7 linked regions of the Homo sapiens genome follow. The protein of the gene in region 1 purifies or fractionates together with the protein of each later gene. This does not show direct contact. Each region holds a gene or a part of one and is shown in the gene's direction. Other genes may lie near its edges.

The links.
Region 2: the proteins of SDF4 (region 1) and TTC28 purify together in Homo sapiens (affinity purification with mass spectrometry; 3 studies listed by BioGRID and IntAct, with this or other methods). This does not show direct contact.
Region 3: the proteins of SDF4 (region 1) and MTO1 purify together in Homo sapiens (affinity purification with mass spectrometry; 3 studies listed by BioGRID and IntAct, with this or other methods). This does not show direct contact.
Region 4: the proteins of SDF4 (region 1) and NEK4 purify together in Homo sapiens (affinity purification with mass spectrometry; 3 studies listed by BioGRID and IntAct, with this or other methods). This does not show direct contact.
Region 5: the proteins of SDF4 (region 1) and ATP2B2 purify together in Homo sapiens (affinity purification with mass spectrometry; 3 studies listed by BioGRID and IntAct, with this or other methods). This does not show direct contact.
Region 6: the proteins of SDF4 (region 1) and ERF purify together in Homo sapiens (affinity purification with mass spectrometry; 3 studies listed by BioGRID and IntAct, with this or other methods). This does not show direct contact.
Region 7: the proteins of SDF4 (region 1) and ARL8B purify together in Homo sapiens (affinity purification with mass spectrometry; 3 studies listed by BioGRID and IntAct, with this or other methods). This does not show direct contact.

The regions. Positions count from the first base shown.
Region 1 is NC_000001.11:1,225,502-1,229,001, reverse strand, and holds part of SDF4 (45 kDa calcium-binding protein isoform 2 precursor), read left to right. Parts: intron 1-55; 5' UTR 56-208; coding exon of another isoform or gene 209-229; coding exon 230-534; intron 535-3,500. UniProt on the Homo sapiens protein: May regulate calcium-dependent activities in the endoplasmic reticulum lumen or post-ER compartment. Isoform 5 may be involved in the exocytosis of zymogens by pancreatic acini.
Region 2 is NC_000022.11:28,677,041-28,681,075, reverse strand, and holds the start of TTC28 (tetratricopeptide repeat protein 28), read left to right. Parts: upstream 1-1,235; 5' UTR 1,236-1,352; coding exon 1,353-1,454; intron 1,455-4,035. UniProt on the Homo sapiens protein: During mitosis, may be involved in the condensation of spindle midzone microtubules, leading to the formation of midbody.
Region 3 is NC_000006.12:73,478,737-73,482,236, forward strand, and holds part of MTO1 (5-taurinomethyluridine-[tRNA] synthase subunit MTO1, mitochondrial), read left to right. Parts: intron 1-995; coding exon 996-1,108; intron 1,109-1,199; coding exon 1,200-1,390; intron 1,391-1,556; coding exon of another isoform or gene 1,557-1,631; intron 1,632-1,938; coding exon 1,939-2,069; intron 2,070-2,260; coding exon of another isoform or gene 2,261-2,380; intron 2,381-3,292; coding exon of another isoform or gene 3,293-3,303; coding exon 3,304-3,500. UniProt on the Homo sapiens protein: Component of the GTPBP3-MTO1 complex that catalyzes the 5-taurinomethyluridine (taum(5)U) modification at the 34th wobble position (U34) of mitochondrial tRNAs (mt-tRNAs), which plays a role in mt-tRNA decoding and mitochondrial translation.
Region 4 is NC_000003.12:52,750,441-52,753,940, reverse strand, and holds part of NEK4 (serine/threonine-protein kinase Nek4), read left to right. Parts: intron 1-42; exon of another isoform or gene 43-415; intron 416-1,604; coding exon 1,605-2,009; intron 2,010-3,500. UniProt on the Homo sapiens protein: Protein kinase that seems to act exclusively upon threonine residues. Required for normal entry into proliferative arrest after a limited number of cell divisions, also called replicative senescence.
Region 5 is NC_000003.12:10,334,587-10,338,086, reverse strand, and holds part of ATP2B2 (plasma membrane calcium-transporting ATPase 2), read left to right. Parts: intron 1-1,786; coding exon of another isoform or gene 1,787-1,958; intron 1,959-3,500. UniProt on the Homo sapiens protein: ATP-driven Ca(2+) ion pump involved in the maintenance of basal intracellular Ca(2+) levels in specialized cells of cerebellar circuit and vestibular and cochlear systems.
Region 6 is NC_000019.10:42,249,599-42,252,128, reverse strand, and holds part of ERF (ETS domain-containing transcription factor ERF), read left to right. Parts: intron 1-688; exon of another isoform or gene 689-740; intron 741-964; exon of another isoform or gene 965-1,183; intron 1,184-1,563; coding exon 1,564-1,798; intron 1,799-2,186; coding exon 2,187-2,302; intron 2,303-2,390; coding exon 2,391-2,530. UniProt on the Homo sapiens protein: Potent transcriptional repressor that binds to the H1 element of the Ets2 promoter. May regulate other genes involved in cellular proliferation.
Region 7 is NC_000003.12:5,125,292-5,128,791, forward strand, and holds part of ARL8B (ADP-ribosylation factor-like protein 8B), read left to right. Parts: intron 1-3,168; exon of another isoform or gene 3,169-3,500. UniProt on the Homo sapiens protein: Small GTPase which cycles between active GTP-bound and inactive GDP-bound states.

The DNA.
Region 1 (3,500 bases):
GCTTGGGGAAGTCTTTGCTGAGTCTTGCTAATGATGTGTCTGTGTCTCTCTGCAGACTGTGAGCTGCTTGTCCCCATCCTGCGGCCGTCCTGGGGACACAGAGCCCTCCGTGGTGCCCGGGGATTGGATTGGAGCCAGGACCTCACTTCCTCCTCTGCCCCTGCCCCTGCCCCTCCCAGCACCTGGCCCACACCCTGCAGCCCGCCCCATGGTCTGGCCCTGGGTGGCGATGGCGTCCAGGTGGGGTCCCCTCATTGGCCTGGCTCCGTGCTGCCTCTGGCTCCTGGGGGCAGTCCTTCTGATGGACGCGTCTGCACGGCCTGCCAACCACTCGTCCACTCGAGAGAGAGTAGCCAACAGGGAGGAGAATGAGATCCTGCCCCCAGACCACCTGAACGGGGTGAAGCTGGAGATGGACGGGCACCTCAATCGCGGCTTCCACCAGGAGGTCTTCCTAGGCAAGGACCTGGGTGGCTTTGATGAGGACGCGGAGCCGCGGCGGAGCCGGAGGAAGCTGATGGTCATCTTTTCCAAGTAGGTGCCGCCATGTGCCCAGACTGGGGGGCTGTCCGCGTGCGCTCGCCTGTGTGTTCCTATCCTGGCTTTGCGCGGTGGGGGGCGCCGGGCCCTGTGTCGGGACCTGCCGGGCTGGGAAGACGTGCCGGTGATGAGCGCCACTTCCAGCCTGCTGTGTTTGCGCGGAGGCCTGCGCTGGCAGCCCAGAGCCGCTCCTTGAATGCCCTGGGTCCGCCGGGGGCTCAGAGGGCCAGAGTGGGCCTGTGTGGCCGTCCCTAGGACAGCCTGGAGGAGCCCACGCGGCACTGCAGTGGTCAGCGTCCTCCATGCTGAGGGGCAGACGCCGGCCACGGGCAGCCTCCGCAGGCTGCAGCCCCAGTTGGACGAGGCCTGGCTGAGGAGTGAGGGGCTGCCACAGGTGGCTGGAGAGCTGGTACAGGGTGCTCTGGGCTCCTCCTGACACGCCCTCTACCCTGTGTGTTTGGGGTCCCTGTCACACACGGGCCGCGTATCACACGCAGGCTGGGGGTGTGTGGGGTTGGCTTGTTTTGCTGGCCTGGTCGGGAGCAGAGCTGTGCTGTCAGTGGCCCATCCTTGGCCGTCACTGCCCCCACCCTGCTGAGTCCCGAGACCCTCTTGCTGCCTCTGTGCCTAGTGCCGAGCTTTCTCCCCCGACCCCATCCCTGAGTCTCGAGAGCCTGTTGTGAGGGGTCCAAGATGGGTCAACCTGACCACTCACCCACAAGGAGCCAGGTCCTGCACGGGCGCCTTACTCCTTACGGCACGGCCGGGGTGCCCTGCGGTGTGGCCCTGGAACCTACTTGCACTCAGCGCTGGCCTCACCCCTGGAGGCAGAGCAGGGTCAGGGCGTGCCCGTGAGTCCCCCAGGCCAGCCAGGGTGCCGGGCAGGGAGCCGAGGTGCAGGTGAGAGAACACCCTGGGCCTCCTGGGACCTGCGAGACCTGGGCACAAGGAGGCAGCCCCCGCCGCAGGGCCTGGCCACGAGCTCACCTTCCCGCAGGGCCTGGCCACGAGCTCGCCTTCCCGCAGGGCCTGGCCACGAGCTCGCCTTCCCGCCGGGCCTGGCCACGAGCTCGCCTTCCCGCCGGGCCTGGCCACGAGCTCGCCTTCCCGCCGGGCCTGGCCACGAGCTCGCCTTCCCGCAGGGCCTGGCCACGAGCTCGCCTTCCCGCCGGGCCTGGTGCTCCAGGACCAGTGCAGAGGGGCAGGTGGCAAAGCTGGTGAGCAAGGGGATTGGGCAGGGCTGGGGTCCTGGGGTGCAGGAGCAGGTAGGAAAGGTGTGAGGACTGGTCTGGCTGTGCCACGGCCCTTGGGCTGAGGGCCAGGCGGGAGGGCCCTGAGGATCCAGGCTTTCGGGCGGAGCACAGGTGAGCTGGTGGGACGGAGGCACGGTGCCAGCTGGAGGACCTGGGCACCAGGTGTGGTGTCCCCTTGCACCTCTCCTCAGATGGTACGGTTCGGGGGTCCTTGCGTGGCCTGAGTTCACTTGGTGGTGAGCTGACCAACCCACGAAGAGGCTGCTGGTGCCCCTGGGGCCTGTCAGGTTCACCACCCCTGAGCTCACGAAGGCCTGGCTCGCGGCATCACAGGGGAAGGGTCCCCGTCCCTGCTCAGCCGGTGCTGGGGGTGGGCTGCACGCCTGGGCGAGGGGAGTTGAGGCTTCTGCTCGGTGCGTCTCCAGCTGGACCGGGGTTTCTTTTTGGTGCCTGTAACGAAACCCCAAGCTGTCTCGTTTGAGGAGGTGGGCATGGGGAGTGGGAAGTAACAGCAGGTCTCCGGGTCTCCCTGACTCCTGCGCCGAGCGGCGACAGCGGCCGCTGTGGGTGTTTAGACTTCCCTTCCCACACGCGGGTCCCTTCTCGCCCTTCTCCTGCGTAGGGCCCCGTCCCTCCAGGACCCACGTTCACTCAGCTGTCCTGTCTCCTCTGTCTCCTCTGGGCTGGAACGGTGTCTCAGACTCTCCCGTTTTTGTGAGGACGTAACAGTTCTGAGAAGGGCTGGGTAGGAGGTTTTAGGCTGTCCCTCAGTTTGGGCTTGTGGGATGTGTTTTCTCCTGACCGTACAGGGTTGAGGGTTTCTGGAAAGAGCCCCCAGAGGGGAGGTGCCATGTTTCCTCCTGACCGTACAGGGTTGAGGGTTTCTGGAAAGAGCATCCAGAGGGGAGGTGCCCTGTCCTAGGGGCTTTTGAGCTTCACTTCCTTCCCGCTTCCCTGCACCACGAGATGCTCCAGGCTTTCCTTCCCGCTTCCTGGCACGGTGAGATGCTCTGGGCTCGCCTCCGTGCCACCTGCCCCAGTGCAATAGCTGCCGCCTTTCCAGGAAGCCCTGTCTCCCGTGGCTGGAGCTGGAAGCCAGGGTCTGGGCACTGGGCGTCTTGCCCTTGTTCTCTCAGGAGCCAGAACTTGATAACATGCGTGTGTGCACCAGCCCAGTCACATCTGTGTTCTGCCAGCCCTGTTCACGTGTGTGTGCTGTGTACACGTGGGTACCGGCCTGTGCACTTGCGTGTGTGCGTGCCAGCTCCATGTACGTGCACCGCCCTGCAGCCGTGTCTTCAGGCACCTGAGTTTGGATGAGTGACTCCTTGCCGACATCTTGACTGGAATCCTGCGCCATGTGGTTTCTTTCCACCTTTTTGCTTTTTGCTCTGCCTCGTGTGTGTCTGTGTCTGTGGAGTGTGTAGAGCGTGTGGAGTGTGTGGCCCGTGTCTGTGGCATGTGGAGTGTGTGGCCCGTGTCTGTGGCGTGTGGAGCGTGTGGCCTGTGTCTGTGGCGCGTGTGGAGCGTGACCGGAGCATTCGAGGATGCACGTGTCCACGTGAGACCCACCAGGTGCCCCACCTGCCACATGGCCACCCGGGTGGCCCCGTCCCCAGCCGGTGTGTTTTGGGGACTGTGGAGCTGAGGGTGCCTCCCAGGCCCGTCCACCTCTGGGCTGCTGCGGCTGCTGAGGGAGGGGCGCGT
Region 2 (4,035 bases), on another chromosome or scaffold:
CTACGCCATACAGCCTAGGTGTGTAGTAGGCTATACAAGGCTATACAAGGTTTGTGTAAATGCACTTTGCTGTTTGCACAATGACGCAATCACCTAAGGAGGCATTTCTCAGAACCATCCCGTGATTAAGAGAGGCATGATCGTACAGTCATCATCTCCCTGAAAGCTCAGTCAACCCTGTGCAGTGCTACTGCCACACTCCCCTTTTGCACATGTAGAAATCAAGGATCTTTGGCTCCTCTGAGTGACTTGTTCAAGGTTTCTCAGTTTTCAAGAGATGGAGGCGGGACTTGAATTGAGATTTCCCTTTCTTGAGAACCTGTGGTCCTTAACCATTAAAACCACTTAAGAGGTCTTCTCTCTTGATCACTACCTACTAAGTGCTAGGCGCGGTGCTGAGGCTTTCTCTTATTATTATATTGAGTCCTTATATTTAGGAGAAACAGGCCGTGCGCGGTGGCTCACACCTGTAATCTCAGCACTTTGGGAGGCCGAGGCGGGAGGATCACGAGGTCAGGAGATAAAGACCATCCTGGCTAACATGGTGAAACCCCATCTCTACTAAAAATACAAAAATTAGCCGGGCGTGGTGGCCGGCGCCTGTAGTCCCAGCTACTGGGGAGGCTGAGGCAGGAGAATGGCATGAACCCGGGAGGCGGAGCTCGCAGTGAGCTGAGATCGCGCCACAGCACTCCAGCCTGCGTGACAGACCAAGACTCCGTCTCAAAAAAGAAAAAAAAAAAAGATTTAGGAGAAACAAGTCCCGAAGCCCTGACCCTAACACGCAAGGGTTAGTGGAGATGTGGGACTTGAACTCAGCTTCTCCGTTGAGTCTGGCTGTCTCCGGGACGCAGGCACGTGCTTGCACACCTCCACGATGGCGATCCCGCCCCCTTAGTAGCGTCCTTAACTCGACACTTCTTGCGGGGAAGTTCCTCTTGGCCCAGACCGTCGTCCCAGGCCCCGCGTCGTGGGGGAAGCGAAAGCGGCAGTGTGGGGAAATGGCCGAGGGGTCGGGTCCGGGGTGGTCTGCAGAGAGGCAGGCGGCGGTGCGGAGCCGGGAACCGCGCGCTCACCCGCCGAGTCCGACGGGCCCGGCGGGGGTGGGCGAGACACTGGGAACAGCGGCCAGCTCCAGAGGGCGCGAGGCGGGGCGCGCGGGGAGGGGGCGCGGCGAACGCGCGCGTGCGCGGTGCATGTGTGGGCCCGCGGGGGCGCGCGCGCGGTTTGGGGGCAGTGAGGGGCGCCGCGGCGGCGCGCAGCACGGCGGGAACATGGCGCGCGGAACCGGCGCGCGCGCCTAGCTGGCGGGACCGTTAGCTCGAGGCGGACGCGGCCCGGGCCCCGTGGGGATGGAGCAGTCGCCGCCGCCGGCGCCCGAGCCGACCCAAGGGCCGACCCCCGCAAGGAGCCGAAGGCGGCGGGAGCCAGAGTCGCCGCCGGCGTCGGCGCCGGTGAGTGCGTGAGGGGCTCGGGCCGGGAGACTTTCTTTGTGAAACTCCGGCGGTGGGAGCCGGGCCGGGCCTCAGCGGCAGAGGAGCGCCTGCGAGGCGGAAGGCGTCTCGCAGTCCGGGTTCGATCCCAGCCGCGAGCCGTGAGGCGGCGGGACCTGGTCCGCCGCCTGCCTGGCTCAGTTTCCGCGAGAGTGTGTGTGGATGTGTGTGGGTGTGTGAGGGTGTGTATGGGTGTTGGCCTGCGCACACCGGGGTGGGGGGTGTCGGTATACAGTCAGCGCCTAATGCGCCCAGCGCCTCCCCTTTTCCCCCAGCCCCCGTGGGGCGGAATCTGGGGACTGGAGTCCACCGGAGCGGTAAGCGGCACCCGCGGTGAGACAGGTGTCGGCGCAGCCCGGGATGCTCAGGTGCTACCTTTCCGGGGTGGGGTTTGTGAGGAGTGAGCTCTTCGTCCCCGGAGGCGAGCAAGTCTGTCGGTGGCTCATCAAAGAGCGTTGTTTTGAAAAGCGTTCCACCCACCTCAGCTTCGTGCTGTGTTTGGGCCACTAGTCAGGGGGAAGGATGCTGAGCGACATGGACTTTAGAGGTGGGGCTCCCGCTGGACGGGATGTCTCTGGGCTCTCGAGCTTACCCCCACCCTTGCCTCCCAAACCCGTTAGAGCGTAGGAATCATTGGGAGCACCTGATCAAAATGCCACGGACTGTGGCTCACCACAGCAGGGAAGCCGATTTTGAACTTAAACAAGCTCCGAAGTTGTGATCAGGCGAGCTTGGCAAGCACTGTTTTAGAGAGTAGGCTTCCTGCAAGCAGGAGCCGGTTTTGTGTATACCTCACCATGGCATCTTGGTACCTGGCATGGTGCCTGACACACTGTAGATGATCAGAAAATATCTGTAGAAAGTCTAAATTATTAGGGAGAGTGCAGCATAGGAGTTCTTGAGACATTTTCAGGAGCTTCTTGAGATTAATATCTCAGATTTATTTTACAGTATATGATTTTTCTCAGCTCCCAACTTTGTGATTGTGTTCAATGCCATGTTTTCAGTATGTTTTAGGCAAAAGCAGGGTACATGTTGCTTAGTATACACTATCCACTAGGCCGGGTGCGGTGGCTCACTCCTGTAATCTCAGCACTTTGGGAGGCAGATTGCTTGAGCCCAGGGGCTTGAGGCTGTAGTGAGCCAAGGAGTTAGAGACCAGTGTGGGAAACATAGCGAGACTCGTTCGTCTCCGCAAAAATTAGCTGGGTGTGGTAGAGTGCACTTGCAGTCTCAGCTACTCTGGAGGCTGAGGTGGGAGGATCGCTTGAGCTCAGGAAGTACAAGTTGCAGTGAGCCAAGGTTGTGCCACTGCATTCCAGCCTGGATAACACAATGAAACCCAGTCTCTTAAATAAGTAAATAAATACATAAATGATTATGTATACTCCAGCTAGGTTAAAATTAATTCTGAATCAAAATTCTAAATTAAAATATGCATGTTTCTTTCTCTTCATCATTTGGGAACACTAGGCTTTTAGGATTTCATTCCATTGGGGCAGGTAAATATCTACATTTATGACAAAGCAAATATGAATTACTGTTAATTCAAGAAAGGTGGGAATTTGCTTAAACCTGAGTATTTGTAGTCTTTGTGATTTTTTAAATTTTTAATTTAAATTTTCTTCTTTTTCTTTTTTTTTTTGAGACGGAGCCTCACTCTGTCTTCCAGGCTGGAGTGCAGTAGCACAATCTCAGGTCACTGCAACCTCCACCTCCCGAATTCAAGCGATTCCCCTGCCTCAGCCTCTGGTGTAGCTGGCATTACAAGTATGTGCCACCATGCCCAGCTAATTTATGTATTTTTAGTAGAGAGGAGGTTTCACTGTGTTGCCCAGGCTGGTCCCAAACTCCTTGACCTCAAGTGATCTGCCCACCTTGGCCTCCCAAAGTGCTGAGATTACAGGTGTGAGCCACGGCACCTGGCCTTATTTTTATTTTTTTGAGACAGAGTCTCAGTCTGTTGCCCAGGTTGGAGTGCTGTGGCATGATCTCCGCTCACTGCAACCTCCACCTCCCAGATTCCAGCGATTCTAATGCCTCAGCCTCTTGAGTAGCTGGGGTTACTAGACCCGGCTAATTTTTGTTGTATTATTTTAGTAGAGACTGGGTTTCCCTATGTTGGCCAGGCTGCTCTGGAACTCCTGGCCTCTGGTGATCCACCTGCCTCGTCTTCCCAAAGTGCTGGAATTACAGGCGTGAGCCACTGCCCCCAGCCAATCTTTGTGATATTTTGAAATTGAGGTTTATATTTTGTTCAGAGTCAAAGCTAAAATAGAATTGTTTGAAAATTAATATTTCAGGAACTATTTTTTAATTAAATTGAATTTTATTTTATTGGTTTCATTTCAGTAGGGTTTTAACTTAATATATATGTGTGTATATATATATATATATATATATATATTTTTTTTTTTTTTTTTTCCTGAGATGGAGTCTTGCTCTGTCACCCAGGCTGGAGTGCAATGGCATGATCTTGGCCTCACTGCAGCCTCCACCCTCCTGGCTCAAGCAATTCTCCTGCCTTAGCCTCCCAAGTAGC
Region 3 (3,500 bases), on another chromosome or scaffold:
TTACCATGTTGACCAGGCTGTTCTCAAACTCCTGACCTCAGGTGATCCACACACCTTGGCCTCCCAAAGTGCTGGGATTACAGGCGTGAGCCACGGCGCCCAGCCCAAACAAAGCAAGGAGTCCCTGGGTGGGCACAAAAACACTTTTTTTTTTTCTTTTTTTTTTTTTTGAGACGGAATCTCGCCCTGTCATCCAGGCTGGAGTGCAATGGTGCAATCTCGGCTCACTGCAACCTCCGCCTCCCAGGTTCAAGTGATTCTCATGCCTCAGCCTCCCGAGTAGCTGGGATTACAGGCACCCGCCACCATGCCCAGCTAATTTTTGTCTTTTTAGTAGAGACAGGATTTCACCATGTTGGCCAGGCTGGTCTCAAACTTCTGACCTCGTGCTCCACCTGCCTTGGCCTCCCAAAGTGTTGATATTACAGGTGTGAGCCACTTGCACTTGGCAATAACTTTTTTAAAAAAGTAACCATGGCCAGGCACGGTGGCTCACACCTGTAATCCCAGCACTTTGGGAGGCTGAGGCAGGTGGATCGCCTGAGGTCAAGAGTTCGAGACCAGCCTGGCCAACATGGTGAAACTCTGTCTCTACCAAAAATACAAAAATTAGCCGAACGTAGTGGTGCATGCCTGTGATCCCAGCTACTTGGGAGGCTGAGGCAGGAGAATCGCTTGAACCCGGGACACAGAGGTTGGAGTGAGCTGAGATCACGCTACTGCCCTCCAGCCTGGGCAACAGAGTGAGACTCCGTCTCAAAAAATAAAAACATTAAAAAAAAATTAAACTGCTAGTTAGATTTAGAGTTTTGCTTAAATTTAACTTCATCTTTTGGGATGTTTATTTTTGGCAAGAATACTTCATAAGTAATACTAGGCATTATGCACAAGTTTAGTGTCTATTAAAGTCAGTACGTATCATGTGGAATTTATTTGGATAAGAGAGAAACTAGTAGATAAGCAAATCAGTATTGCATCTGGTTACTGTTTTTTAGCCAGAAGATCAGCTGCCATGTTACTTGACTCACACCAACCCTAGAGTGGATGAGATTGTCCTTAAGAACCTTCACCTTAATAGTCATGTTAAAGAAACGACAAGAGGACCTCGGTAAGGACAAAATGTCAGTGCTCAGTTACTTTAAGGAATGACGTCAATCCTCTTTTGTTCATTTCAAGTTTATTTAAATGTTCTATTCTAGATACTGTCCCTCCATTGAATCAAAAGTTTTGCGTTTTCCAAACCGTCTACATCAGGTTTGGTTGGAACCTGAAGGAATGGATTCTGACCTTATCTACCCACAGGGGTTATCTATGACGCTACCAGCTGAGTTACAAGAGAAAATGATCACATGCATCAGAGGCTTGGAGAAAGCTAAAGTGATTCAGCCAGGTAAAGAAGATCACAAGTGCCCTTCAGTATAAGGTCAGCATTGTTTTAATGGTCAGTGAGGAGGCCTTAGCTACAGTCATTGTTGTTCAGAGCCTCAGAAGATGAAGCCCAACACCTATACATTTTAAATAGTCTGTTTTTTGTTTGTTTGTTTGTTTGTTTTGAGACGGAGTTTTGCTCTTGTTGCCCAGGATGGAGTGCAATGGTGCGATCTCGGCTCACCACAACCTCCCCCTGCCAGGTTCGTGATTCTTCTGCCTCAGCCTCCTGAGTAACTGGGATTACAGGCATGCATCACCATGCCCGGCTAATTTTGTATTTTTAGTAGAGACAGGGTTTCTCCCTGTTGGTCAGGCTGGTCTCAAACTCCCGACCTCAGGTGATCCACCCGCCTTGGCCCCCCAAAGTGCTGAGATTACAGGTGTGAGCCACTGCTCCTGACCTAAATAGTCTGTTTTTAAAGGGCATTTAAGGGTAATGCTTGCATCTCTACCTTGAGCAAATCCAGCTCTGTATTTACTTATTTAATGTCTTTGTTCTTTGGTCAGGCTACGGTGTTCAGTATGATTACTTAGATCCCCGTCAGATCACCCCTTCCTTGGAGACTCATTTGGTTCAACGACTCTTCTTTGCTGGACAGATCAATGGCACCACTGGTTATGAGGAAGCTGCAGCTCAAGTAAGAAGTTAAGATATTAATGTAAACTGAAAGGGACTATTTAACTGGTATTTCTCCTTTTAATGTCTGTTGTGTTAACTATGTAGATCTTAGATACAATTCATACTAATAGAAGACAATTTATGTTTCAGGGTGTTTGGAGATGGCTTTTGTAGATAATAGGGTTTTTTTTTTTTTTTTTTTTTTTTGAGACAGAGTGTTGCTCTGTTGCCAGGCTGGAGTGCAGTGATATGATCTCCCAGCTTCAAGCGATCCTCCTGCCTCAGCCCTCCCTAGTAGCTGGGACTGCAGGCATGCACCACAACACCCAGGTAATTTTTGCATTTTTAGTAGAGATATGGTTTCACTGTGTTGGCCAGGCTGGTCTCAAACTCCTGACCTCAGGTGATCCACCTGCCTTGGCTTCCCAAAGTGCTGGGATTACAGGTGTGAACCACCTTGCCCAGCCAATAATAGGATTATTAAAACACTATGGCTTTATTACTCTTTTCTGAGCTCCTGTGTGATATCATATTTTGATTAGATGTATTGCTTGTGAAGTTTAAAATTTATTTTAATATACTTCATTAGAAATTATTATATTATTATTCCTTGTAAGTCAGAAATTATTTTATTTTTATTTGCAAGTGGGAAAAGGCTAGAGAAGTTTCACAGGTGGGTTTTAAAAAAAAGATTAACCGGCTGGGCATGGTGCGTCACACCTGTAATCCCAGCACTCTGGGAGGCTGAGGAGAGAGAATTGCTTGAGCCAGGAGTTCGAGACCAGCCTGAGTGATGTAGTGAGACCCCCATCTCTACAAAAATATGTAAAAATTAGCCAGGTGTGACGGCATGTGCCTATAGTCCCAGCTACTTGGGGGGATGAGGTGGGAGGATTGCTTAAACTCAGGAAGTCGAGGCTGCAGTGAGCCAAGATTATGCCATTACACCCCAGCCTAGGTAACAGGGGAAGACCCTGTCTCCGGATAAAAAAAAGATTAGTCCCCGCAGAGTGCAGCTTATCAGGAAGATTAGATGGATATCTCTGAAAACAATGAATCATAGCCTTCTAAAGTGATATATTACCCATATTCTATTTCTGAATATGGATCACATTTTCTACCTCTATTATATCCCTTAGGGGCAATACTTGCTTTCTTCCTGTCCCATGCCATTGTTTCTGAGTAGTGTTCTGAATGGGATAGCCGTTTGTTTAGTTCATAATGGCCTTTTAAACATTTCAGTGCTCTTGTAGGGTGTGATAGCCGGAATCAACGCCAGTCTTCGGGTCAGTCGCAAGCCTCCCTTTGTGGTTAGCCGAACAGAAGGTTACATAGGAGTCTTGATTGATGACCTCACTACTCTGGGCACCAGTGAACCATACCGCATGTTTACCAGCCGAGTAGAGTTCCGTTTGTCACTGCGCCCTGATAATGCTGACAGCCGGCTCAC
Region 4 (3,500 bases), on another chromosome or scaffold:
GCCTCGGACTCTCAAAGTGCTGGGATTATAGGTGTGAGCCACCGCGCCTGGCCTAAATATGCCATCTTGATAAAGTCTGTGCCCTATGAATATTAGTCCAAACCACTTTAATACAGAGGGATAAGATGGCTGCACATAGACACCTAATAACGTCTGCTCCGCAACCAAGGTAAATTCAGCAAGAAGAGAGTATTTCAGGTGGACGAGTCTGTAGGAAGCATGCATGCCATTTGTTGACTGTGCTGCTGGGACAGGCTCCGTAGGCTTAGTTATGGGCAAAGCATTTTTGGGAATAGAAGGCAGCTGTTTCTTTGGCATAGTTCATCAAAGACTGGTTTTTGCATCCCCTGCCAATGTTTTCAGCTTCAGATCGTTTCCATGTAGAGCTTGTAGACATGCTCCAGAAAGAGTACATAATGTGTACTCCAAACAAAGAAATTCAGTAGTATGTCATCAGACTCTTCCGTCCTCAGCATTCAATTTACCAGCCTTCCGGGCATTGTGCCTCACCTCTGTGCCTTCAATGTAGAGTTCCCAGCTGCCTATCACCTTTGTGGCCCAGCGGCATCTCTGGCCACAGTGCCAGTCCTGCCCCTGCTTGCTCCCTGCCCTGTCCTGGCTTACTTCTTTTCTTTTCTGAGACAGGATCTCAACTGTGTCAACCAGGCTGGAGTGCAGTGGTGTGATCACGGCTCACTGCAGCCTTGACCTCCCGGCTCAAGCAATCCTCCCACTCAGGCTTCCAAGTAGCTGGGACTACAGGCACTTGCCACCATGCCCAGCTAATTTTTTGGTATTTTTTATAGAAATGGGGTTTCGCCATGTTGCCTAGGCTGGTCTCAAACTCCTGAGCTCAAGTGCTGGGATGATAGGTGTGAGCCACCACACTTGGCCTGGCTTATTTTACTTAGCATGTTTTCAGGGTTCATTCGTGTTTTAGCATGTATCAGAACTTCATTCCTTTTTATAGATTAGAAATATTCCATTGTGTGTGTGTGTGTGTGTGTATATATATATATATATTTTTTTTTTTTTTTTTTGAGGCAGGGTTTCACTCCTGTTGCCCAGGCTGGAGTGCAGTGGCGGGCTCTCGGCTCACTACAACCTCCGCCTCCTAGGCTCAAGCAATCCTCCCGCATCAGCCTCCCAGGTAACTGGGACTACAGACATGCACCACCACACCTGGCTAATTTTTGTATTTTTAGTAGAGATGGGATTTCACCATGTTGCCCAGGCTGGTCTCAAGCTCCTGGCCTCAAGTGGTTCACTTGCTTTGGCCTCCCAAACTGCTGGGATTACAGGTGTGAGCCACCGTGCCTGGCAGTATTTACCACATTTTGTTTATCCCTTCATCTGCTGATGGACTTTTGGGTTGTTTCCGCCTTTTGACTATTTTAAATAAAGCTGCTGTAAACATTGGTGTACAAATACTTAACTTAAATCCCTGCTTTCAGTTCCTTGGATTACATACTTAGGAGTGGAATTGCTGAGTCATATGTTAATTCTATGTTTAACTTTTTGAGGAACCTCTTGTTGCATTTTGAGTTGATTTTGTATAAGATATGAGGAGTGCTATAATAATTTCCAAACATCTTTTCATTCAGGGTGAAGGCAAATGTTTGTCCCAGGAGAAACCCAGGGCCTCTGGTCTCTTGAAGTCACCTGCCAGTCTGAAAGCCCATACCTGCAAACAGGACTTGAGCAATACCACAGAACTAGCCACAATCAGTAGCGTAAATATTGACATCTTACCTGCAAAAGGGAGGGATTCAGTGAGTGATGGCTTTGTTCAGGAGAATCAGCCAAGATATTTGGATGCCTCTAATGAGTTAGGAGGTATATGCAGTATTTCTCAAGTGGAAGAGGAGATGCTGCAGGACAACACTAAATCCAGTGCCCAGCCTGAAAACCTGATTCCCATGTGGTCCTCTGACATTGTCACTGGGGAAAAGAATGAACCAGTGAAGCCTCTGCAGCCCCTAATCAAAGAACAAAAGCCAAAGGACCAGGTGAGTGATATGCACACATGAGATACTGGTTTTGGAGAGAAGACTGAAAGTGCAGTTACAAATATGTGGGTTCTGTTGTCATTTTAGGAAAATCAGTAATTCTATGTATCAGTTTAAACATAGAAGAATATTTGCATCAAACCAAAAAGAAACCCAGTACCCTATAACAGTCACTCACCATTCCCTCTTGCCCACAACTCGTGGCAACATTTGTCTCTATGGATTTGCCTATTCTGAGGATTTCATATAAATGGAATCATACAATTTATGGCTTTGTGTGTTTGGCTTCTTTTTTTCTCTTTTTTTTTTTGAGACAGAGTTTCACTCTTGTTTCCCAGGCTGGATTGCAATGGCGCGATCTCGGCTCACTGCAACCTCTGCCTCCTGGGTTCAAGCAGTTCTTATGCCTCAGCCTCCTGAGTAGCTGGGATTACAGGCATGCGCCACCACGCCCAGCTAATTTTTTTTTTTTTTTTGAGACAGAGTCCCACTCTGTCGCCCAGGCTGGAGTGCAGTGGCGTGATCTCGGCTCACTGCAACCTCCGCCTCCCGGGTTCACACCATTTTCCTGCGTCAGCCTCCCGAGTAGCTGGGACTACAAGCACCCACCACCACACCTGGCTAATTTTTTTGTATTTTTAGTAGAGACGAGGTTTCACCGTGTTAGTCAGGATGGTCTCGATCTCCTGACCTCGTGATCTGCCCATCTTGGCCTCCCAAAGTGCTGGGATTACAGGCATGAGCCACCGCACTCGGCCGATGCCCGGCTACTTTTGTGTTTTTAGTACAGACGGGGTTTCTTCATGTTGGTCAGGCTGGTCTCGAACTCCCGACCTCAGGTGATCAGCCTGCTTTGGCCTCCCAAAGTGCTGAGATTACAGACATAAGCCACTGGGCCTGGCCTGCCTTCTTTTACTTAACCTGATGTTTTCAAGGTTTATCTATGATGTAGGATGTACCAACATTTTATTCCTTTTTTAAAAAAATTTCATTTTTTAATTTTTTGAGACAGGGTCTCTGCTGCTCAGGCTAGCGTGCAGTGGTGCAAACACAGCTCACTGCAGCCTTGACTTCCTGGGCTTAAGTGATCCTCCTGCCTCAGCCTCCTGAGTAGCTGGGACCACAGACATGCCCTGCTAATTTTTTTATTTCTATTTCTTGTAGAGAGATGGGGCCTTGCCATGGCCATGTTGCCCAGGCTGGTCTCAAACTCCTGGGCTCGACAGTCCTCCCAACTTGGCCTCCCAGCGTACTGGGATTATAGGCATGAGTCACTGGACCCTGCCTCATTCCTTTTTATTGCCAAATAATATACTGTATTTGTATTTGTGTGCCTGTGTGTGTGTGCATGTGTGTGTATACACACACATATATGTATTTTTTGTTTGTTTGAGTCTCACTCTGTCACCCAGGCTAGAGTACAGTGGCACGATCTCAGCTCACTATAACCTCTGCCTCCTGGGTTCAATGATTCTCGTGCCTCCGTCTCCC
Region 5 (3,500 bases), on another chromosome or scaffold:
CAGCTCTGGTGCTGAGGGAGGGTGGCTACAGAGGGGTCCCGGCCAGCTCTCACCAGCCACTTGCACACCCACTCCTGTGGCTGCTAAGGAACAGCACGGCCTCCTCAGAGAGGTCCCATTGTGCCCTCTCAGGGCAGCACGGGGAAGTGGTAGGGGTCACACCCACCATGGTCTCCAGGGGGATTTCCCTGAGAGGGTGGGGAAGGGTGGCTCTGAGGGCAGAGGTGAGTGAGGGGACTGTCGCTCAGGGCTGGGGGCACCCACCCACAGGGGCCGTGTGAGGCTGGACAGAAGCTGCAGGCCAGGTCGCCCAGGGTCCCCCAGGGCGTGGTGGTCAGGGGGTCCGCCGCCTCCACGGGGGCTTCAGTTGCTCTCCCCAGCTTCCCCTAGGGGGTGGAGAGGCTCTGGGGAGCAAAGGTCAGTCATCCTCAAGCACACACAGACACACATGCACACACCAAGCACACCAGGGGAGCACAGGTGCAGGGCGTAGCCAGCCAGAAGCAGGTTTCTTCCCCAGAGCAGAGAGAGCATGGCTGCCACGTGGCACACGACACACCTGCGCGCCTCCCCCGACCCCCCCACACACATACCACATGCTCTCACATGGTCCCCTTATGCCTGGAGCAGGTGTTGTAGCTCACAAGTGCTGTCACAGCCCTGCGAGGGGAGGGTCAGAAGGGACTCTGTGGGTCTCTTGCCCAGACCATCTGGGGAGCTGGAGTGGGAGCTCCTCCATGCCCCAGCATGCTTGGGCGAAGTGCAGTGTAGAAGCAGCCACCTGGCCACCATCCTGCCAGCTGTGGCCCAGCACCTCATTTCCATCCGATGTAGCAGAGAGCTCACCTGGGTCACCTCCCACCCCTCTGTACCCTGTCCCAAACCTCACCTCATGTGACCTTCACAGCCCTGGGAGGTAGATGTGACTCCCCCAGTTTTAGAGGTTACCAAGGTCCAGGAGATGGCCCCTTCTACTGAGCTGGCACAGCTGGGGTGGGGACTGGAAGCCGGTTTCAGACCCGGAGGTGCCTGACACGGGCCTGGGCTCACCCTCCCTGGTTAGGGCCCCGCAGCCACCCCTCCCAGCCTGCCCCCACCTCCTGGGAGGTCCAGGACAACTCAGTGAATATGTCCCTGGTGCTGTCACTGCCCTGGCGGCAAAGCCACGCAGGGGTCTCCAGATTACGGGAGGAAGCAAGGACTGCGATTTCTTGAGTGGGCAGGGGCGCCTGTCTTGCCTGCCTCTTGCGGAATGCTAACACGGGTCAGGTGCTTTGCCACTTACAGATAACCCTGCCAGGCAGGTGGCATTGACCCTTCTTAAGAACAAGAAACTCGACTCAGAGAGGTGGCTTGCCCAAGGTCAGCTAGCTAGTAAGTGACAGAGCTGGAATTTAGGCCAAGCTCTGTCCACCTCAGGACCCCCACCACACCCTCTACCTCCACGCCTGTACCTGAGGGAGGCTGAACACTGCTCTCTTCCCTCCAGATACCATGTTTAATCACTGCCTCCCCCACTGGCCAGCCCACTGGCCCCTGAGCCACTAGCACAGGACAAAGGCCGGACCCCCTGTGTCCTCCCGGGGACCCTGGGGCCTGCAGGTGGGCCCAGAGCTGAGCAGACGTTTTTCAGAGCCTTGGAGTGTGTCTGGTATTTTTGTTTTGATTTAAGTGACATTGTCGTTGTTGCCGTGGCTGCGGCTGTTCTTGTGACGTTGCCCTGTCAGTCATGTAGCCGTTGTGCTCGTTCTTCTCGCAACTTGTCTCGTTCTCTCCTCCGTTGCAGATTGAAGTAGTCAATACTTTCAAGAGCGGGGCCTCCTTTCAGGGGGCCCTGCGGAGACAGTCCTCGGTCACCAGCCAGAGCCAGGATGTAGCCAATCTCTCTAGCCCTAGTCGCGTGTCGTTGTCCAATGCTCTTTCCTCTCCGACCAGCCTTCCTCCTGCTGCAGCCGGGCGTGAGTGTGACTCCTTACTGCCTCCGGCTGGCACTGCCCACGCCAGCTCCCAGGCGGGCAGGGGCTGGGGCACCAGAGGACATGGGGGGCAGCCGGTCACAATCAGGCCCAGGGGGATGAAGGGTCCCAGCCACCGAAGAGGGTCCCGTTGGTCAGGAGAGCGTAGCCAGTCATGCGGTGGCAGTCACTCAGTGGACCAGGGTCAGTCAGAGGGTCATTAGGGTCCCAAGTGGCCAAAAAGTCTGGTTCAGTCAAGGGGTCACCCTTGGTCAAGAGGACATCAGTGACCAAATGGTCCCAACCCACCACAGGGTCCCGGCAGCCAGAGGGGGACAGACATGGAGGGGACACAGAGTGTCCCACTGGCCTAGGGTCATATGTGGTCAGGAAAAGCCTGGACCACCAAGGCAAGGGTTGGAGTTGGACAAGAGGTCCCAGTCTTGCAGTCAAAGTCAGCAGAAGGGTCACTGTGGGTCAAGGGGAGCAAGCCCCTTAGGGTCCCAGTCAGTCACATTGGGATCCACCCAGGAGAGGGTCACGTCAACCAGACTTTCCCAGTTGGTCAGGGGGCACCCACAGTAATGAGGGTCATGGTCAAGGGGGACAGTTGAGCCAAGAGGTCACTGCAGGTCAGAGGTCATAGTCAGCCAGGGATCCCCAGGCCACCTAGGAGCTCACAGCCTAGACGCTGCACCCCAGCAGTTCAGAGTCTCTGCCCGCTTCCTGTCACTCCTCCCCTTGCACTTTTGACTGCATCAGCTGCCCTGCAGACACCTTTCCCTGTGGCTGAGCTTGGAACTTGCTGAAGTTCTAAGCCCTTCCTGGAAAGGACAAGGTCCCTGGCCCATTCAGCTTGACCCCTGGTAGAAAATGGTGGGTCGAGCCTCACATCTTGCCTGGGTGCCAGCAGGCCCAGAGGGACCTGATATGCCCTTCAGCATCCTGCCCTCCTTTATCTGAGAGATAGCCTGGGACTGTGGCCCCTCCTTCATCTCCCTCCTGCCAAGCTCATCTCCTCATGCCACCACTTCTGATCTAGATCACTCATTGCTGGCTTTGTCTAGCTCTTTCCCGGACCCATGGCTTCGGGCCCCATAGGGAACAAGTCTGTCTTTCCTCCCATCGCCCTGCTATGTTTCCAGTCAGGCGCTTCTGATCTGCAGGGGAGCCCCTGGTTCTGGTCTTCTCCAATTGGCATAGTGTCAGTCTTAGCCTCCAGCTTCTTTGATGAGAAGTAGACTCCAGCTCACCCCTTGAAACTTTATAAAGGGCCTCTACCCCCATCCAAAACCAGAACACCCACAACACAACCCCTGCAGCCAAGCAGGTAACCCGGTGTGCTGGTGGGAGCGCCTCCCTCAGTGCCTCCAGTAGGAGGCGCGGGCCACAGGGAGCCTGTTGATGGCAAATGTCCACGACCCATAGCGGCAGGACAGAAGCAGAAAGCAGGGAAGGAGCCTCTCAGTGCTCATTCGTCAGCACAGAAACGCAGTGCTGGGGAGGACCGGGGAGCCAAGATGAAATGGAGATGCATTTCAGCAG
Region 6 (2,530 bases), on another chromosome or scaffold:
ACCTTGTGATCTGGATTCTCTAGAAGGGTGAGGATAATGGGTTGAACACCTAGATTCCCAAGAGAGCGATGGTGCTCTGGGGTCTCTGGAAGGGGTTGTCAAAGGCTGTCACTTTTAAATGGAACAGGGGCTGTTGGTGCTGGTCTGTGAACAGCTGGAGGTCATATCCCTGGCACCCTGAGGGGCTGGTGGAAGGCTGGGATATATCTGAATGGGGCAGGGACTCCGGGGGCTATGTGGTACTGCAGCCCAGTCTGGGCAGGAGTTGGGGGCCTACAGTGAGCTCTGGATTTGGAGGGGGTGGTCCCTGTGGGAGCAGGAACTACTGATTCCCTGGATTCCCAAGGGGAAGGATCCCTTGTTGGATTCCAGACTTGGGTGGAGTCTTTGAGGGTGGATGTGTTGCCTGGAGGCCTTGTTGGTACCTGTTTGAGCTGGGGCCAAGGGAGGCGGATTGACCCCTGCAGCCTGACTGGATTTGGGAGCCGCCCATCTTTAGCTGGCCACCTTGGCCTTCTCTCTCTAGTGGCACCAGGGACCCTGCTCTGCCTCCCCACTCCTTCCCTTCCTCCCCTTTCCCTCCTCCCACCCCTCCATTACCGGCTGCCTGGTGCTGAATTATTGATGGCCCCTGTTGTTGGGAAATGACAACAACCGCAGTCCCCCCACCCCCCACCCCCCACCCCAGGCTGCCCACCCCCTCCAGAGACCAGCCAGCCCACCGCCAACCTCTACCCAAGGTTAATGCTGGGGGTGGGCAGGCAGGTGGGCAGGGAAGGAGCTGAAGATGAGAAGGCAGAAGTGGGAAGAGGGTGACAGCTCCAGGGTGCCTGCTCAAGCTCCAGGCCTGGGCTGGGCCCTCCAGCCAGGTGGGGCCTGGATGCCTGGGTCTGGGGAGGGCAGTGTAGCTCAGAGGGTCCAGGGCTTGGGGGGCCTCTCAGACAGTCTGGGTTTCACTCTCCAGGGAAGACAGAAGCCTCTGTGTGTGCAAGCGCTGACCTCATCGGCAACCGAGTCACCCCACCCCTCCTGGTCCTTTTAAGAAAAAAAAAAAAAATCTTCCTCTCAGGTCTTGGGGTTGGGAGTAGGGGCTCTGTTGGGTCTTCGGAGGAGACAGTGCATGTTTCTAAGGAGGACATCCGAGGAGCTGGGGTGGTGCAACTGGCTCTGAATGGGAGTGGGGGTAAGCTGGGGGGCTGTACCCCAACCCGGCTGGCCACGTGTGCCCCTTCCTGCCCCTCCCCCACTGGCAGCCCTGCCCGCCAGCCTGGCTTGGTGCCTGGCCCCCTGGCACTGGCCCCGGGACCCACCGCCGACGGTTTCCTGTTTCTCCCGGTGTCGCTGGAGCGGGCTCCAGCTTCCCCTCCCCCCCAGCTCCTGTCTAGCCCCTCACATGCAGACAGACAGACACGCACTGTCTTCTCTTAAATCAGATCTTGACTTGGCTGAGGTGAGACAGATTTCCCCATGTTGAAGGCAGGGCAGAGGTGGACCCTGGGATGGGACCCAGAGCCCTGGACTTGGCAGCCTGACCCCAGGCCACTCCCTGCCTCCCGTCCCCAGGGTTTGCCTTCCCGGATTGGGCCTACAAGCCAGAGTCGTCCCCTGGCTCAAGGCAGATCCAGCTGTGGCACTTTATCCTGGAGCTGCTGCGGAAGGAGGAGTACCAGGGCGTCATTGCCTGGCAGGGGGACTACGGGGAATTCGTCATCAAAGACCCTGATGAGGTGGCCCGGCTGTGGGGCGTTCGCAAGTGCAAGCCCCAGATGAATTACGACAAGCTGAGCCGGGCCCTGCGGTGAGGACGGGCTGGGGACCCCTGAGCACATGTGGAGTGCCCCCCCGGGGTTGCACAGCCCCTTGCCTGTGGGAACAAGCATTGGGTCTGACCCCTGGCTTTGCCAAATCCTAGCTGTGTGACCTTGGGCCACTCCCAGCCCTTCCCTGAGCCCCTTGGTAACACAGACGTATCCTGAGGAGAGATTACAGTCACCAGTGGATCCTCTAGTCCTGCCTTAGATGTGAGGAGAGAGCTGGTACCCACCCTCTGGGCACTTGATTTGTCTTTTGTGGCCTACGTTCCTCAGTTGGCCTTTGGGAACCACACCTAAGTGCGTGTTAAGGTGTGGAGTCTAGACCTGGGTCCCACGTACCTGACCTTCCCAATGGCATTTCTGTACCCACAGCTATTACTATAACAAGCGCATTCTGCACAAGACCAAGGGGAAACGGTTCACCTACAAGTTCAATTTCAACAAACTGGTGCTGGTCAATTACCCATTCATTGATGTGGGGTTGGCTGGTGAGTACCAGGGATGGTTGGTGTGGAGAGGGTCTACATGCCCCTTCAGGCTAGGCCAGGGGCCTTGACACTGTCTCCCTTCTGCCAGGGGGTGCAGTGCCCCAGAGTGCCCCGCCAGTGCCGTCGGGTGGTAGCCACTTCCGCTTCCCTCCCTCAACGCCCTCCGAGGTGCTGTCCCCCACCGAGGACCCCCGCTCACCACCAGCCTGCTCTTCATCTTCATCTTCC
Region 7 (3,500 bases), on another chromosome or scaffold:
CTGTTTAATGCAGGAACGATGGCTTGAAAAATACTGAGAAGGGACTCAACTGGTATCATTTTCTACTTTGAATCACTGTATCTATCCAGATGTGGGCTGCAGTAGTGGATTTATGGATTGGGGAAAGTAATCGCATCATGTGTTCCCCCCTGCCCCGCCCCCACCATTAGATTATTATATTTAACAACAACAAAACTTCTGCAAAGCTGTTGAAGTCAAAGTGAACCAGTGGCTCCACCATTATCTTTTTTTTTTTTTTGAGACGGAGTCCCGCTGTGTTGCCCAGGCTGGAGTGCAGTGGCATGATCTTGGCTCACTGCAACCTCTGCCTCCTGGGTTCAAGCTATTCTCGTGCCTCAGCCTCCCGAGTAGCTGGGACTACAGGCGACTGCCACCATGCCCAGCTAATTTTTGTATTTTTAGTAGAGACGGGGTTTCACCATGTTGGGCAGGCTGTTCTCGAACTCCTGGTCTCAAGTAATATGCCTGCCTTGGTCTCCCAAAATGCTGGGATTACAGGCGTGAGCCACTGTGCCCAGCCCACTGTTATCATTAGACTATTCTTTTTAAAATTGTAATGGTGTGGGTAGCTTCAGTTAAGAAAAAAAAAGTCACAAAGATAAGGTGATGGATGTGTAATTGGCTTGAATTAGTCATTCCACACTGTAAACATGTATCAGAACATCTCATTGTACTCCATAAATGTATACAATTATGATTTGTCAATTAAAAGTAATATTAATTTAAAAAAGAAAAAAGACATCTGGGCTGTAATTGGCTGTGGCTTTTAAGATGCTGAAAGGGACCCCCTCAGTGAATTTCATACTTTTTTTTTTTTTTAACCTCAAGGCTCTAACCTAACCCCTGATTCTTATAGAATATGTTGAGGATGTAGTGATTAAAATCCAAGTTAGTGATTAAAGATGATTTTAGAGATTTTTAGGTAGAAACAATGTGTCCAAAATAGTAAGTTTAGCCTTTTAAAAAATCAGCTGCACTTTTTGTATTGTATATAAAATAGTTGCTTTATAGAATCAGAAATACAGATGTATTGAGTACTATGTGTCACTCTAGAAAGGTGACCATTTACTTATTCACATTTAAGAAGCGACTTCTCAGGTATGAAAAGCTTCAGCTGAAGCCAATTTTCTTTTTGTAAAAATCAACATTTTGTAAACATTAAAATGTCACTACATGTGCCTTAAACATTAAGGAAGATTTAATAGATGTCATTTAACTTACTCAAAAGGTTCATGAGACTGAATTACTATTATATGTAGGGTTTGGTTTGAGTCTAAAAGATAATGCAGCTTAGTTACAGAATGCTCAGACTTAGAATGCCTTTCCTTAGGATTTTAAAACTGAAATGATACCTAATTTAATCCAGTTTTATGTAGAGACACTTGATATATGTAGTGTTCTCTTTTGTTTTGAACATTATAAAAAAGAAACACCCTAGTCTTGTCTTTTCTGATTAGTGTCAAGGAATGAAGTATTTTTTCCATTGCTAACTGTTCTGGCAGTTATTGCACAATAAGTCATGTGCCTATATGTGTAATGTATATTGAGTAATCTTTATTTTTAACTGGGGCTTTTAGATATGTTATAGTTATTAAAAAATATCTAATAGGATTTGCCAAAATAATATAGGATAAATCTTATGGACATTATGTATTTTTTAAATGGAAGTATAAAAATTTGTCTACACTTTTGCACATTGTTGATACCTGAAAGGTTAATCCAAGGGAAAGTTTATTACTGCTGAGAATTAGGAAAAGAAGATATTTGGGAAGACTGTAGAAATATGAACCTAGAATCATTTTTTAAAGAGTTTGTAGAAACCTTGATTAAGTAGTCTAATTTTCCCCTCATTTTTTAGATGTGGCTAGCAGATCCAGTGAGGTTAAGTGGAATTCCAAGGCAACAAAGCTAATTCGTAGCAGAGATAGAATTAGAATCTGGGGCCAGTGTACTTTCTACTTTTCCCACCTCTTTAGATCCAGCTGAGGTTAGAACCATAGAACTGTGGATTGGGAGATCTTAATCCATTAAACATCTTTTTTGTATTTAATTTAATTTAAAAAATCAGCTGCAGTTTTTGTATCGTATATGAAATGTTTGCTTTATAGAATAAGAAATACAGACGTAATGAGTACTGTGTGTCTCTCTAGAGAGAGCATTTTAAATCCAGGCATCTTAAGCATACTGACTAACATTTGAGGACTATATATTTATCTATGAACATGAATTAGGAGAAGGAATGATAATCTGTGGAAAGTAAGAGTGGAATATTATGTTTGGATATTTAAATAACTGGCTAACAGGCATTACTGAGTTGTTGAACTACTTTTAGTATCTTTAAAAAGCAGAGGGAGATCAAGACCATCCTGGCTAATGCGGTGAAACCCCGTCTCTACTAAAAATACAAATAATTAGCTGGGTGTGGTGGTGGGCACCTGTAGTCCCAGCTACTCGGGAGGCTGAGGTAGGAGAATGGCGTGAACCTTGGAGGCAGAGCTTGCAGTGAGCCAAGATTGCGCCACTGCACTCCAGCCTGGGCAACAGAGCGAGACTCCGTCTCAAAAAAAAAAAAAAAAAAAAAAAAAAAAAGCGGAGGGCCAGGCGCAATGGCTTACGCCTGTAATCCCAGCACTTTGGGAGGCCAAGGCGGCCGGATCATGAGGTCAGGAGTTTGAGACCAGCCTGACCAACATGATGAAACCCCATCTGTACTAAAAATACAAAAATTAGCCTGGCGTTACTCAGGAGGCTGAGGCAGGAGAATTGCTTGAACCTGGGAGGCGGAGGTTGCGTTGAGCCGAAATTGAGCGACTGCACTCCAGCCTGGGCAACAGAGTGAAAATCCGTCTCAAAAAAAAAAAAAAAAAAAAAGCAGAAATAATTTTGTATTTGATTGTATTGCTTATTATTTAATTTCTTTGGAGGTAAGAATGGCAAAAACCATTTTTAAAGAAAATGGGCTGTGGTTCAAGTCTAGATGTTTTACACATCTGAAACTTGACTGGAGAAGCTAGTCTTCCAATAAGGTGGTCTTCAAGTATAGATTCTGAGTTGTGGAAAATGAGGCATCTTACAAAGGAACATCTCTACCTTCCATAAAGTTTTCTACCCTTCATCCCCGCTCCAATTATTTGTTTTTCCTTGCAGACCAAGAATCTTGAAAGCCAAATGTTCTCATTAAGAAGCTGTTAGAGTGCAATAATGCATTCTAAATGCCTGTCTTAGAAGATATTTCACAAGTTAATGGATTTTTTAAGTTTTTCAAAGATATAGTAAGTGGATGGTTACTGAACATGGATACAAAATACATTGAACCTATAAAAAAGTTACTCAAATATTATTAAAAAATTTTTTTTCTGAAATTTTTTTTGTGTTATCAAAACAATACAGGCTCATTAGCGGAGATGTGAAAAGAATAGTATAAGGTAGAAGAAGCCACTTATTTCTACCATCCAAGATTAACTACTGTCAACATTAAA